Homo sapiens: one gene and its partner. The protein of the gene in region 2 interacts with the protein of the main gene of each other region in a biochemical or structural test. Each region holds a gene or a part of one and is shown on either strand. Other genes may lie near its edges.

Region 1 (3,652 bases), on a different chromosome or scaffold from region 2:
AAGTGTGGGCTTGAGTGAAAAGTTCCAGCTCTGTTATTCTCTAAACAGTCATGGGAAACTTGGTTCCTTCTTTTCTTACATAAATTGGGAACAAATCATCGTCTAATGGGTGAAGGAAAACTAAGTGGAATAACTGGACTTACCACCTGGGACATTGTGAGTTAGTTAAGTTTGAGTCATGGTCCCTTTGAGATACTGAAAGCTATGGAACTCCACCCCTGCTTCCTAGATCTTTAAGGTCTCATGGATATCATGGACCTTGGAATAATCTTTTGTAAATAACCCTTCTGGTGAAGGCATAGTAAACAAAGTTCCCCTGCTCAAAGGCTAGAGATTTGGGTATTCTTTGGGTTTTGAGTAGCGAGCATAATTCTGTGGGATTCTGGACAGGTTTCTTAACAGGTGAGTAGTGTCACTCAAACACTCAAACCCACATGCTCATTTTCTGGGTTACTTTGTATATGTATATGCATGTACTTTAAAATACAACATAAAATTTACCATTTTAACCATTGGCATAAAGTACATTCACATTGTTTTTCCGTTATTGCCACTAGCCAGCTACAGAAATTTTTTATCATCTCAAACTGAAACCGTACACATTAAACAGTAACTCCCCATTCTCCCTTCCCCTAGTGCCTAGTAACCACCATTCTATTTTCTGTATCTGTGAGTTTGAGTGCTCTAAGTACCTCATGTAAGTGGAATCATACAGTGTTTATTCTTTCTCGTCTGGTTTATTTCACTTAGCCTAGTATCTTTAAAATTCGTTCATGTTGTAGCATGCATCAGAACTCCTTTGAAAGGCTGAATGATATTCCACTGTATGTATATACCATATTTTATTTATCCATCAATAGACATTTGGGTTGTTTCCACCTTTTGGCTATTGTGAATAATGCTGCTATGAACATTGGTGTACAAATATTTGTTCAAGTCCCCGGTATATACCCAGAGTGGAATTGCTGGATCATGTTCTAATTTTATGCCTAATTTTTTTGAGGGGACACCATACTGTTCTGCACAGCTGCTATGCCATCTTACATTCCCACCAACAATGCAGCATGTTCCAGTTTCCCCACAGCCTTGCCAACAGTTGTTATTTTCCGTTTTTTGTTTTTTGTTTTTTTTTTGATAATACCCACCCTAATGGGTGTGAAGTGATATTTCATTGTGGTTTTGATTTGCATTTTTCTAATGATTGGTAATGTTGAGCATCTTTTCATATGCTTATTGGCCATCTGTGTATTTTTTTTTTTTTTTTGGACACATGTCTATTCAAGTCTTTTGCTCATGTTTTAATTGGGTTGTTGAGTTTTCTGGTTGTTCAATTTTAGGAGTTCTTCATATGTTCTGGATATTAATCTCTTATCAGACACATGTTTTGCAAATATTTTCTCTTGTTCTGTGGTTTTATCTTTTAACTTTGGTGTCTTTAAAAAAAAAACTTTTAACTTATTTAATTTTTTAAAATTGAGACAGAGTCTGTCTTTGTCACCCAGGCTAGAGTGCAATGATGCCATCTCGGCTCACTGCAACCTCTGCCTCCTGAGCTCAAAGCAGTCCTTCCACCTCAGCCTCCCAAGTAGCTGGGACTACAGGCATGCACCATCATGCCTAGCTAATTTTTTGAATTTGTTTTTTTTTGGAGAGACAGGGTTTTACCATGTTGCCCAGGCTACTCTTGAACTACTGGGCTTAAGCAATCCTCCCACCTTGGCTTCTCAAAGTGCTGGGATTACAGGCATGAAGCCACCTCACCCAGACCAACTTTCTTTTCTTTTTTAATTTTTTTTAGAGGGTCTCACTATGTTGCCCCAGCTGGCCTTGAACTCCTGTGCTGAGGTGATCCTACTGCCTCAGCCTCCTGAGTAGCTGGGACTGCAGGTGCATACCACTGTGCCCAGCTTACTCCAATGTCTTGATGCACAACAGTTTTTCATTTTGATTAAGTCCAGTTTACCTGGGCCAGGTGCAGTGGCTCATGCCTGTAATTCCAGCACTTTGGGAGGCTGAGGCAGGAGGATCACTTGAGCCCAGAAGTTTGAGACCAGCCCTGCAACATGGGAAGACCCTGTCTCTACAAAAAAAAAAAATGTTTTTTAATTAGCAGAGTGCGGTGGCACCCTGCTACTCAGGAGTCCCCAGCTACTCAGGAGGCTGAAGTAGAAGGATTGCTTGAGACTGGGAGGTCAAGGCTGCAGTAAGCCATGATCATGCCACTGCACTCCAGCCTAGGCAACAAAGTGAGACCCTATTTAAAGAAAAAAAATGAAGCCGGGCACAGTGGCTCACACCTGTAATCCCAACACTTTGGGAGGCCGAGGCAGGCAGATCACCTGAGGTCAGGAGCATGAGACCAGCCTGGCCAACATGATGAAACCCCATCTCTACTAAAAATAGAAAAATTTTCCGGGCGTGGTGGTAGGCGTCTGTAATCCAAGCGTCTTGGGAGGCTGAGGCTGGAGAATCACTTGAACCTGGGAGGCGGAGGTTGCAGTGAGCCGAGATTGTGCCATTGCACTCCAGCCTGGGCGTCAGAGCGAGACTCTGTCTCAAAAAAAAAAACAAAAACAACAACAACAACAACAACAACAAAAAAACATAAAAAAAATTAAAAACAGTTTAATTTTTCTTTTGTTTCCTGTGCTTTTGGTGTTCTAGGTCATTCTTAACTGTTCAGCCCTACCTTGCCTTCTCCACTTGTTGAGCAGTCCCAAGGAGTCAATCCGGAAGGAAGCTTGCTGGACTATTTCAAATATTACTGCTGGCAACAGGGCTCAAATACAGGTAAAACAGGCAGGGAAGTCAAGGGGCATGGGAAGTCATAGGAACTTGGGAGGTTGTTGGAATATTTGCTTTCAGAAGAAAGAATTTGTTTCCCTTTAAAAATAGGAGTCAATTGGCCAGGCACGGTGGCTCACGCCTGTAGTCCCAGCACTTTGGGAGGCCGAGGTGGGCAGATCATGAGGTCAGGAGTTTGAGACCATCCTGGCCAACATGGTGAAACCCCATCTGTACTAAAAATACAAAAATTAGATGGGTGTGGTGGCGGACGCCTGTAATCTCAGCTATTCGGGAGGCTGAGGCAGGAGAATTGCTTGAACCCGAGAGGCAAAGGTTGCAGTGAGCTGAGATCACGCCACTGCACTCCAGCCTGGGCAACAGAGCGAGACTCCGTCTCAAAAAAAAAAAAAAAAAAAGAGGGGCTGGGCATGGTGGCTCATGCTTGTAATCCCAGCACTTTGGGAGGCTGAGGTGGGCGGATCACAAGGTCAGGAGATCAAGACCATCCTGGCTAACGTGGTGAAACCATGTCTCTTCTAAAAATACAAAAAAAAAGAAAAATTAGCCGGGCGTGGTGGCAGGCGCCTGTAGTCACAGCTAGTCGGGAGGCTGAGGCAGGAGAATGGCGTGAACCTGGTAGGTGGAGCTTGCAGTGAGCCGAGATCGCGCCACTGCACTCCAGCCTGGGTGACAGAGCAAGACTGTCTCAGAAAATAAATAAATAAATAAATAAATTGGAGTCAGTGTGTACTATTGGTCAAAGAAGCTGTGTAACCAAAACTGGGTTCTTCTGTAGTAGCCTGTCACCTATATAGGAAGAACAAAAGAAAACTCCCAGAATGGGGAAGATGTCTAAGTCTCAGCT
Region 2 (3,652 bases):
AAAACAATATTCACTGGGACTATTAGGCTGTAAAAAGAAATATGTTTACTATTTCCTGAAGAAGCTTCCATATACTTTGCTAGTTGTCAGAATTTTCAAACTAGATCTCAGAAAAACCAGAAAACACACAACCAAGTCCATCGTGTTTATCAAATTTTATTTAACTAGGCCGGGCTCAGTGGCTCACGCCTGTAATCCCAGCACTTTGGGAAGCCAAGGTGGAGGGATAATGAGGTCAAGAGATCGAGACCATCCTGGCCAACATGGTGAAACCTCGTCTCTACTAAAAATACAAAAATTAGCTAGGCATGGTGGCAAACGCCTGTAATCCCAGCTACTCAGGAGGCTGAGGCAGGAGAATCACTTGAACCTGGGAGGCAGAGGTTGCAGTGAGCCAAGATCATGCCACTGCACTCCAGCCTGGCGACAGAGTGAGACTCCATGTCAAAAAAAAAAAAAAAAAAAAAAATTTGTGAAAATAGTGACATTTTGAAGCTTATACTGGTAACTAATTTTGCCAATATATATATTTCTGACTATGTAATATAACATCATTTACAAAATTGAGATGAAAAGAAACACCTTATTCTAAAGAATAAAACCTATTTGGTAATTCACATCCCACAATGGTACCTAATTGACCAATTAACTAGATGCTACATTCACTGGAATTTACCTTTGAACTGAGAAGGCACACTCCTGTGGTGACTGAGCTACCTAAAAATCTCACTGTTACTGTCGGGGGTGGGAGTAGAAACCTAAGTTATTTTACCTGCATATACCTGAACGAATGTACATTATTACTATTTTAAGAGTTCTGGGCAAGAAGTTTAACAAAAAACTATAGCTGTGTATTCTAAACAAGAAATTTTGCTTTCCTCATTCTAACGTTTTTGTTAGATTTACTTTTGTTAGATAAAAACCAAGATGAATCAAACATTTTTTTTTCTGGGTAAATTAAGCAACCAGAGCATAGGATATATATTCATTCAACACAAGGCTGTGAGATGTCAAATCCCCTACTCTTAGCTTGTCAGTTTTATTCAACAAATACCTAATGTAGAATTATTTACCACTTATTAAAGCTTATTTATGCCTCATTTATCAAGTTATAATGTTCAGATCTAAGTTGCCCTACTCCTGAGCATATTTTTAGATGTAGGAAGCCCTAAAATGGAATCATTCTAGATTTAGAAATAGAGCCCTGTGTGATATCTCTAAGTCTTGGCCAGCCTAGCCTTTAAAGATTATTTTTGTGTTCATAGGACAATTAATATCAAGACAGATCCAGAATAAAAAAGACCAGTTACTAAGTATTTATTTTATGTAACACTTGTTATTTTCATATTATACTTACCCAAAATTTCAAAATAGTGATGGAAATTAGACTAAATTGGGCAAAGAATTTATAAGGTCCTTTCCCATTTAAACCCTCGTAAGTCTATTGCTACCAGACAGTTCTCCAACTCAAAGGGGTAATGGGCCAGGCATGGTAGCTCACGCCTGTAATCCTAGTACTTTGGGAGGCCAAGGCAGGAGGATCGCTTGAGCCCAGGAGTTTAAAACCAGCCTGAGCAACATAGTGAGAACCCCAACTCCACACACACACACAAAAAAAGGTTAAAAAATTAGCCAGGCATGGTGATGCAGGCCTGTAGTCCCAGCTACTTGGGAGGCTGAGGTGGGAGAATCATTTGAGCCTGGGAGGTTGAGGCTGTGATTGCACCACTGCACTCCAGCCTGGGTGATAGTGAGACTCTTTCTCAAAACAAAACAAAACACAATAAAACAAACTAAAAGGGGTAACAGGTATAGGCTGTAGCTACCTTGAGCACACTTAGTACTATTCTCTTTAAATGTCCAAATTCAAGATGTTTTTGTCCTACTGATATAAATAATAGAGAAACAATGTACGTTTCACCTTTTGGTTTATATTAAGCTAGTTTCTTCCCATGTTCCTGACTATCTTTGAGCCTAAAACATGTGCTCAGGTCTAGGTTAGGCAGTAGCTCTTGCAATAATTTTAAAGTGCTAAAATTCAAACACACACACAAATGTAATTTGTGGTTCAAATAAGTGTTTGAATCAAACTTATAAATACATTCTTGAATGTTAAAATCTGAAAGTTGTCCCTTTCTGATTATATCATGACACCTACCTCAGGTGAACTTTGTCTAGTGCTTCCATCGGAAGGACTAGGTGTCTGATCCTGAATCTGGGGCATGGTAAAAGAAAGTTCCAGTGACTCTGGATTTGGTTCTAATTTTAATGCAACTTCTTGATTGAGTGCAGGGTCAGCACTACTTCGAAGTGGCTTTGGCGTTTCAGCGGTGGGTAATGGAGACATTGCCAAATTTATATTCTGTAATTTTTCGTTGGGTGAGGGGAGCATTACATCATTATATAATGGTACTTCCTCAAGTTGCTGGTCATCAGTTTCTGTGTCTGTGGGGAAAAAATATGAGTCAATCTAAAGTATAGAAGGATTTTTTTTTTTTTTTACCCAAGACAGAGTCTTGCTCTGTTGCCCAGGCTGGAGTGCAATGGCGCAATCTTGGCTCACTGCAACCTCTGCCTCCCAGGTTCAAGCAATTCCCCTGCCTCAGCCTCCCAAGTAGCTGGGATTACAGGCGCACACCACCACGCCCAGCTAACTTTTGTATTTTTGGTAGAGACGGGGTTTCACCATGGTGGCCAGGCTGGTCTCGAACTCCTAACCTCAAGTGATCCACCCGCCTCGGCCTCCCAAAGTGCTGGGATTACAGGCGTGAGCCACTGCGCCCGGCCACAAGGATTTTCACATATAAAAAATTTATGTTCTTTTTCACAAAAGGTTTGTCTAATTCATCAAACAACAAAATGTCACCAAATTTTCCTTCATCAGAAAGTTTACATACAATAGTATAGTATAACCATAAGTCTGAGTTACCTTTACAATCCACTATTGATACCGCGTCTTAATCTCTATGGCATAAAAGACAAAAGGCAATACCAACCTTTTTATACATTAAAATGTTCTCTACTTTAAAATTGCAGTTTTCATCTTCAATGCTTGATGTTATAGTATGACTACTTTTTTATCCTTTAATGCAACAATGCCTACTTCCATATAACTCTGCTAAACTGTGGAGAAAATCTGACAGCAGGATACAGAAATAGAGTAGCCAGGAAAAATTTATGTGGGAAGAAGAAATACCTTAAGGACACTTTGAAGCACAATTTCCAACAGTATAAAAAAGCAAGAATGGTAAGAAATTACGGGGGCAAAAATATTTAAGCAAATACATTTAAGAAAACTATAAACATATATTAGCTTGTAATGTCCAAATGATTACCAACAAAAACCGTAAAGTAATGTTTAGTTGAAATGGGGCTTGTAGCAACAGACACAATTTAGGGGATTAACAAAAATAACTACTCACCGTTGCTGCCAAAATCTAAAGATATGATTGTGTCTCCAGCGGCTGGGGCCAGCAAAGTTAAAGCATCAGGTTCCTTCTTAAGTTTGTCAAAGAGGCTACTTGTATCTTCTGATTCAACTTTGGTGAATAGCTGAGTCATTTTCATATCTGAAGATTCAACCGGTTTAAGGACACATTCTGTTTGTTGAAGGGAGAAAATCAAGTCGTGCTGAATAATACCACTGTCAAAA

What was found. The genes of interacting proteins can lie anywhere in the genome.
Region 1: the proteins of HIF1A (region 2) and KPNA6 form a complex in vitro, tested with the Homo sapiens proteins (2 studies listed by BioGRID).

Annotation. Positions count from the first base shown.
Region 1 is NC_000001.11:32,163,441-32,167,092, forward strand, and holds part of KPNA6 (importin subunit alpha-7), read left to right. Parts: intron 1-2,664; coding exon 2,665-2,790; intron 2,791-3,652. UniProt on the Homo sapiens protein: Functions in nuclear protein import as an adapter protein for nuclear receptor KPNB1. Binds specifically and directly to substrates containing either a simple or bipartite NLS motif.
Region 2 is NC_000014.9:61,736,880-61,740,531, reverse strand, and holds part of HIF1A (hypoxia-inducible factor 1-alpha), read right to left. Parts: intron 3,644-3,652; coding exon 3,423-3,643; intron 2,446-3,422; coding exon 2,159-2,445; intron 28-2,158; coding exon 1-27.